Linked DNA regions of Homo sapiens. Changing the gene in region 1 together with any one later gene gives a genetic interaction. Each region holds a gene or a part of one and is shown on either strand. Other genes may lie near its edges.

Region 1 (3,823 bases):
GAGGTAGTTTAGAGGAGAAATAAATCACATCTAGTTAGTTAGGAACTAAATATGTTTTGTGTAGGAGTTGGCATTAGAAACAGAAAGATTTCTATAGAAAGATTTTTGATGGACGTGGGCTGAGGGCATTCTAGGTAGGAAATAATGCTTAAAAATTAGATATTTAACCATCTACAGATTTAACTTAGCAATACTATTTATTTCACCTCAAACTTGGATAACTGAGAGCGGCATAATAGATTCTTGTGAAGTTTTAAAAATAGCAGTATGATTCATGATGTCAATTTACTTGGGCTAGAATTATAGTTGCCATATCTGTTTTTTTTTGTTAATTAAAACAGTCCTGTAGTTTCCTGTTTCTTCTACATTTTCATGTGCAAATTGTTTTTGTAAAATTCCAAATCCAAGAATAATTCAAACCACCTAATTGTCTGACTGTCAGATGTGAGCATTGAAGCTTTTGTTTTGCTTTGCTTAACTATGTTCTTTGACCTATAAAATGTGGAAAATAGGAATTTAGAAATACTGCATTAATTCACTTGAAACACATCAGTGAAATTTAATCAACTTAATATTGAGACTAAGATAAGAATATAGCAGTTAATCATTAAAGTTAATGGCAAGAATTTTGGAAAAATTCCATGTCTTTTTCAACTATTAATTTTTTATAAAACACTACATGCTTATTGTTGAAATTTTAGAAAGTCTGTAAACTTAGAAAAAATAAACAATCAAGAGATGACATTTTATATTTTGATGTTAAAAGGAAATATCCTTTTAGTAACTTTGTTGTGCTAATAATTATATAACATGTATAACCAATATGTATATAGCTGACATTTAATATATGTTATGTATCTGGGGTTCTGTTATTCCTCTTCAATCTGAAGAACTGCTTTTAGGATTTTTTTTTTTTTTAAATTTAGTTCTTTTTTTAAAAAAAATTGAGATACAATTTACATACTATGAAATTCACTATTTTAAGATGTTCAATCTAGTGGTTTTTAGTCTTTTCCACAAGGTCATAAAATCAAGACCACTATCTAATTCCAGAACATTTCATCACCTATATGGACTGTGATGATTAGAACCAAGGGAGCCTTATATGAAAGATTTCAAGGAATGAGTTACAGAGATGAGCCTTGAAGGCCCACAGGTTTTGAAAACCCTTCAGTGGTTCCCTGTTATTCATAGCACAAAAGCCAAACTGTTCAATATAATATTCTTTATATCTGAAGCGTGCCTGTGTCTTCAGTCTCATCTTTGATTGTGATTGCTAATCACAAATACTCAGCTTTGGACAATTTCATGCCTTTGTTATACCATTTGGCCTATCCACTATCCTGCTGGAAAATATACTCTGCATCTTTCAGGATGCAGCTAATGGTCATGTACCTTATTACCAAACTTTCTCTTATTCTTCAAGTAGAAATAACTACACTCCTTGTACTTAGGCTTAGGTAATGCTTTCTTACAACAACAAAATATATTTTTCCTAAATCAGTGTGTTTTTTTTGTAATTTTAGATGGTTGTACATGGAATTTCTGTTATAAAATTAGATAGCAAGAAAACCTATCTGGTTTCCTAGTAAGAATATGAGGAAAGAAAAATAATTTTAGGTCAAAAACATATTAATAATTAAAATTTTAAGTAATACTGCATTTTATACCTGTAGTCATCCTTTAATGTCCTTATCTTGTTCTGTCAGACTGCATTTTTTTTGACTTTTTAATGGCTATGGTAGATTTGCAGTGATCTGTTCATACTCCCTTGCCCTGTTCCCTTTGAACAAAGCCTAGTAAAGTGGTATGAAACCAAGAAAGGCCACATGGCTCACATGGGAATTAAATCTATAATGAGGATGCCATTTATTGTCATAGATTTTATGATTAAAGTAATTGGTGTATAACAAAATTTAAAGCATTAATGATTAAACAAAAATATTTTTAAAAAAGATCCTGACGTTTAGAATTTAAAATTTGTAGTCTTCCTACCCTTAATTGTCACTTAGTAATTCAAGCATAAAGCAAAATGTAGCATGGAAATTCAAATATGAAAAATATGATGAGATATTGTCAGGTGATTCTATTTCAGTATAGAATAAATGCATGATGGGGATGGGGGGCTAACAGTTTATTGATATGATCTGGGTACAAGTGTGTTCACTTTGAAATTTCATCAAGTTGTATATTTATGGTTTATGTGCTTACTGTGTGTATGCCATATTTCAATTAAATTAAAAAAAATTGTTATTAAAGTATGAAGAAACTTACCTTCTTTTCTCTTTCAAGGAGATGATTATTGACAGAGTAAATGGACAGGCTGTTCCTAGATATTTGATATATGACATAATTAAATTCAATGTAAGTACCTATAATTTATAAAATACAAGTTATTACTGAAATAATGAATGTATTTTTGACAATAGTCTTTGGTGCTGCCTTAGAGATAGTAGGAAAGAAAATTTGTGACTCAGGTTACTCACTGGGAATCTTTTTTTTAATCCTTTTATATCTCCTTTTCTTTCTCTTATTGTTAATTTTCACACATTTCTTTGTTTTAGGTTTCTTTAACTTGCAAGTGAGTAAAGAATAATGGCATAACTCTGATAAAATAAGACAGCATTTCATAAAATGAACATTTCTGATTTTAATTATCCTGTACTTTTTTCTTTTAAATCTCATGAGTTTATTTCTGTCACCAAAACAGCAACAAAACAAAAGAGAAACTGATTATGAGCTGTTGAATGGGTAATAAATTGCAGTATTAATTCAGGATTGCATTAATCCAGGTTATTAAAAGACATTTTTTTCTGGACATTTTTAATGCACACATCTAATTTTTTGATTGAAATTCTGTATTTAAAACAAAGAACTTCAAATTTAAGAGCCTCAGGGCCAGAAAACATCAAGTTTTATTTTGTTCTGTTTGACTGTATTCCTCATAAGTACTGCTTTCCAGAACTGGCTTAATCTCATCACAGATCTTGGAATAACATTCATTGGCCTATAACTAGACATAAGGGGTGGCGGGGTGGCTTTGTTTCTTTGTGAGTAGGGAAGTTCTGTCTCCTTTACTTCTTGACACTGAGCTCTGCTTTAATACATGTTCAGTCTGGGCTTACTCTCACTTCTTAGCTGAGTACTGTCTCTTAGATAGCAGTTTTCTAATACTTTTTAAAAATATGAAAAATTTCACCATATAGAAGAGTCTGAAAAATAATGTAAGGAATACTCATGTACTGACCAGCTAGATTTGTTAAAACTTCATACTTTTGGTCCACTTTCTTTTTAATAAGACATGATTCATTACGAATCCAATAGAAGTTTCTTAGTTACACCTCTCTCCTAATCTCAAATCTCTTGCCCAGAATCAGCCTCTACCCTGAATTTGGTGTGTTTATTGTTCCCATGAATGTTTCAGATACTTTTACTACCTATGTGTGTATCCATGAAATATATATGATATTCTTTTGCAAGGTTTCTGGTGTTATATAAATGTTATTGTACTATACCTTTGCTGACCTTTGCTCAACAAGATAATGTTGAGATTTATTTGTACTAATATGTCTAGATTTAGTTCATTCACTTTAATTACCATTGAGTATTAAATTGTATAAATATACAGAATTTATCCTTTTTCCTTTTGATGAACATTAAGGTTTCCATTTTTTGCTTTTATATTACTACTATATTGAACAATTTTATGTTTTTTTCTTGTGCGCACATGAAAATTTCGCTAGGACAGTTGTTCTCATTCTTGGAATGTAATTACCTGGGAAGTGTTTTTAAAAACTCTGTTCCGTCATTAGTGTATCATGGA
Region 2 (3,823 bases), on another chromosome or scaffold:
TGTTGATTTCTAATTTAGTCACATTGTGGTTGGAGAACATATTTTGTATGATTTAAATCCTTTTTTGTGTATTGAGACTTGTTAGGTCAAGTCAGTCTTGTGTCTTGTTTCTTGTGGAAAACATGGCTCCCCTCTGGAGGATTTACGTGCTCTACTGATGAGCACCTCGGCCTGAGTCATACTTGGTCCACACTGTAGGGAATCTTCTTGAAGTCCTGATTCTTCACCTCATTTGACCTCATGTGTTTGAGGAATGCTGGGGGATGGGGTTGTTTTCTGACACTGACCAGATGCCATCCCTGAGTGAGGCAGGGGCCTTGAGATGCTGCCAGAGTCCTCATTCTGTTTCACATTAGGCTTGCTGTCACTCCTGTTAAGGATCTCACTCTGGGAATTTCCCTTTTTTTTTGTTCTCCTTCTATTTGTTGGAATCCCTGACAGGCCTTTTGGGGGTTCTCTGGATATCGGTTAAGGCTAGATTAAGCTGAAGAAAACCTTAAACAACAAGTATCTTGTTCTGCCGTGGCTGCTTGAGCTCCAGCTCTGACCTCAGCATTCCATCTAGCCTGGAGGAGGAAGAGACATGTTTCTGACCTTTTATGGCACTCAACTTACATCCTATGAGCCAGAATTTAATGACATTGCCACCTAGCTGAAAGGGAGCCTGGAAAACATCTGTTTTAGGTAGTCTTGTGCTTAGCTAATGCTAAGGAAGGCACGCACAATGAGTTTGAGTGTTTATTATGTTCCAGACATCATGTTAAACTCTGAATCTCCTATTTAGTCTTCATCATAACCCGTAGGTGGGCCTTATTATTATCTCCATTTGATAGAGGACTGAACTGAGGCCCAGTGAGATCAAGTGATGAGCTCAGGTTCACACGCCTATTGCATGGAGGAGCCAGAATCCAGACTCGGGCTCCAGCTCCAGAGTCTGTATTCTTGGCTAGCTGCTTTACTCAATCTCACCTTCTCCCTCCTTAATTCCCTTTTCTCCACTCAGGTGAAAACCTCAGTAAAGAAAACCCAGGCCAAAGCCAACCCAGCTGCCGCCAGAGCACCTTCAGCAAAAGGGACAATTTCAGCCCCTGGAAAAGTTGTCACTGCAGCTGCTCAAGCCAAGCAGAGGTCTCCATCCAAGGCAAGTGGGGCCAGAAGCCACAGGAGGTGTGGAGGGTTGGGGTAGAGAGGAGGACCAGTCACTGAGCCCAGCCAGGAGAAGGTGCGTGCATGGGCAGGCCACCCACCCAGAGTTGTGCCATAGTGGGGAGTGGGACCTGAAAGGAATCACTTTTGCCTCCAATACTATTATCCCCCTGCAATTCAGGTGAAGCCACCAGTGAGAAACCCCCAGAACAGTACCGTCTTGGCGAGGGGCCCAGCATCTGTGCCATCTGTGGGGAAGGCCGTGGCTACAGCAGCTCAGGCCCAGACAGGGCCAGAGGAGGACTCAGGGAGCAGTGAGGAGGAGTCAGACAGTGAGGAGGAGGCGGAGACGCTGGCTCAGGTGAGGGGGAGGGAATGGAGATCATCCCCTACATGGGATGTAACACCTTTGCCACATCCAGCTCCTGTCTTCTCACACGTCCACCCTCCAGGCTCTCTCCTCTCATCCTGTTTCTCCCTCCAGGTGAAGCCTTCAGGGAAGACCCACCAGATCAGAGCTGCCTTGGCTCCTGCCAAGGAGTCCCCCAGGAAAGGGGCTGCCCCAACACCTCCTGGGAAGACAGGGCCTTCGGCTGCCCAGGCAGGGAAGCAGGATGACTCAGGGAGCAGCAGCGAGGAATCAGACAGTGATGGGGAGGCACCGGCAGCTGTGACCTCTGCCCAGGTAAGACTTGCCAGGCCTCTGAGCCACCAACACTCACTCCTCAGAACGGGGGTATAGGGCTGGGCGTGGTGGCTCACACCTGTAATCCTAGCACTTTGGGAGGCCGAGGCAGATGTATCACTTGAGGTCAGGGGTTCAAGACCAGCCTGGCCAACATGGTGAAACCCCGTCTCTACTAAAAATATAAAAATTAGCTGGGCATGGTGGCGGGTGCCTGTAATCCCAGCTACTCGGGAGGCTGAGGCAGGAGAATCCCTAGAACCTGGGAGGCGGAGGCTGCAGCAAGCCAAGATCATGCCACTGCACTCCAGCCTGGGTGATGAGAGTGAGACTGTCTCAAAAAAAAAAAAAAAGAAAAAAAAGAAAAGTGAAAAACCAGGGTTTAGGGCCAGGTAAGGAAAAGAAAGGAAGGCCAGGTTAAGGCTTAAGGCTCCAGTTCCACCATGCCCTCCTCCGTCTGCTGTCATCCACATCTCCTTAGGTAAAACCTGCTACTAAAACCCCCCAAACGAAGACTTCCGTAGCTAAAAGTGTCCTGGGTCTATATCTAGGTCGAGGTCTCCACCAGCTCTATAAGCTAGGCCAGTATTTCCCACCAAGGCATATGAGACCAAGAATCTACATGTTAGTTATTGTGCATACGTTAACGTTATACAAAATGACTCTCCCTGTCAGAGTCCCAGGGAAGCTTGGAGTGTGGCACAGGTCCCCCTGAGGTCCTGGAGAGATGGAGGAAGTCTCATCCTGCACCTTGGCCCGGAGCCTCACATAGGCAGGCGCATCTTCTCAGGCAGGGCTTGTCTAGCTTAGTGCAAAGCCTGGACCCTGGAGAGTGGGGAGAAAGAAAATCTGAACAATTCCCTCTGTCTGCTTGCAGAAGATAGCAGGGCTTGCTACATCCTACAGAAGTGTAGGATGACAAACTCCAGCACTGCCAAGGCACAGGTGTGTGATGGAAATGACTGATGCAGGCCTGGCAGGAATGATAGATGTCGGCCGGGTGCGGTGGCTCAAGCCTGTAATCCCAGCACTTTGGGAGGCCAAGGCGGGCGGATCATGAGGTCAGGAGTTCGAGACCAGCCTGGCCAACATGGTGAAACCCTGTCTCTACTAAAAAAATACAAAAATTAGCCAGGCGTGATGGCAGGCGTCTGTAGTCCCAGCTACTCGGGAGGCTGAGGCAGGAGAATCGCTTGAACCCGGGAAGCAGAGGTTGCAGTGAGCCAAGATCATGCCATTGCTTTGCACTCCAGTCTGGGCAACAGAGTGAGACTCTGTCACAAAAATAAAAAAAAGAGATGATAAATGTCAGGAGAGATGGTAGATAGTGGTAGCAAGTAGGGCAGACCGGAGAGCCCTTGCCCCATCCAGAGGGGCAGTTCTTATCAGCTTCAGCCAGTCATGACTGTGGAGATGGACCTTCTGTGTGGCCAGGTCTTCCATTTCTTAAGGGAAGCTGGAAGTCCCTGTGCCAGGCCAAGCTCCATAACCTCTTAGATTTGTTTTCTTCATGAGTAAAACAAGCACTGAGATGAATGCTCCCTAGCCCTAACCTCTGCCTTTGATACACCAAACCAACAATTACTGGGGGTGAAAGACATTGGCCCCACCCTCAAGGAGCTCACAGTCTGTGGGGCAAGACAGGTGACCGGATTATCGCAGACTATGCTAGTGGTGCTGACAGCTGAAAGAGCAGGTCTCTGAGAGGCCAGAAAAGGAGGAGATGATTGAGCTGAACCTGAAGGATGACCAGGCACAAAAGTGGAGAAGGCCCCTCAGTGTGTGCAGAGGGGCTGGGCATGAAGGCACATGGTCACTGAAGGCAGCTGTCCTGCAGGCCGTAGGCCCTCCCAGGTGCTTGTTACTGGTAGATTTATGGAGGACCTAAATGCCAGACTAAGACATAGGCCCCGGCCATATTTTGGGCTGTGTAGTTTTTTTGTTTTTAAGTTTTCAATGAGTTCTTAGTCAGAATGGCCTAATCTGTAGGAG

What was found.
Region 2: changes in RNGTT (region 1) and TCOF1 together harm fitness more than expected from each alone (negative genetic interaction), as found in Homo sapiens cells (one large-scale study listed by BioGRID).

Annotation. Positions count from the first base shown.
Region 1 is NC_000006.12:88,848,296-88,852,118, reverse strand, and holds part of RNGTT (mRNA-capping enzyme), read left to right. Parts: intron 1-2,292; coding exon 2,293-2,364; intron 2,365-3,823.
Region 2 is NC_000005.10:150,377,902-150,381,724, forward strand, and holds part of TCOF1 (treacle protein), read left to right. Parts: intron 1-1,003; coding exon 1,004-1,141; intron 1,142-1,327; coding exon 1,328-1,507; intron 1,508-1,630; coding exon 1,631-1,831; intron 1,832-3,823.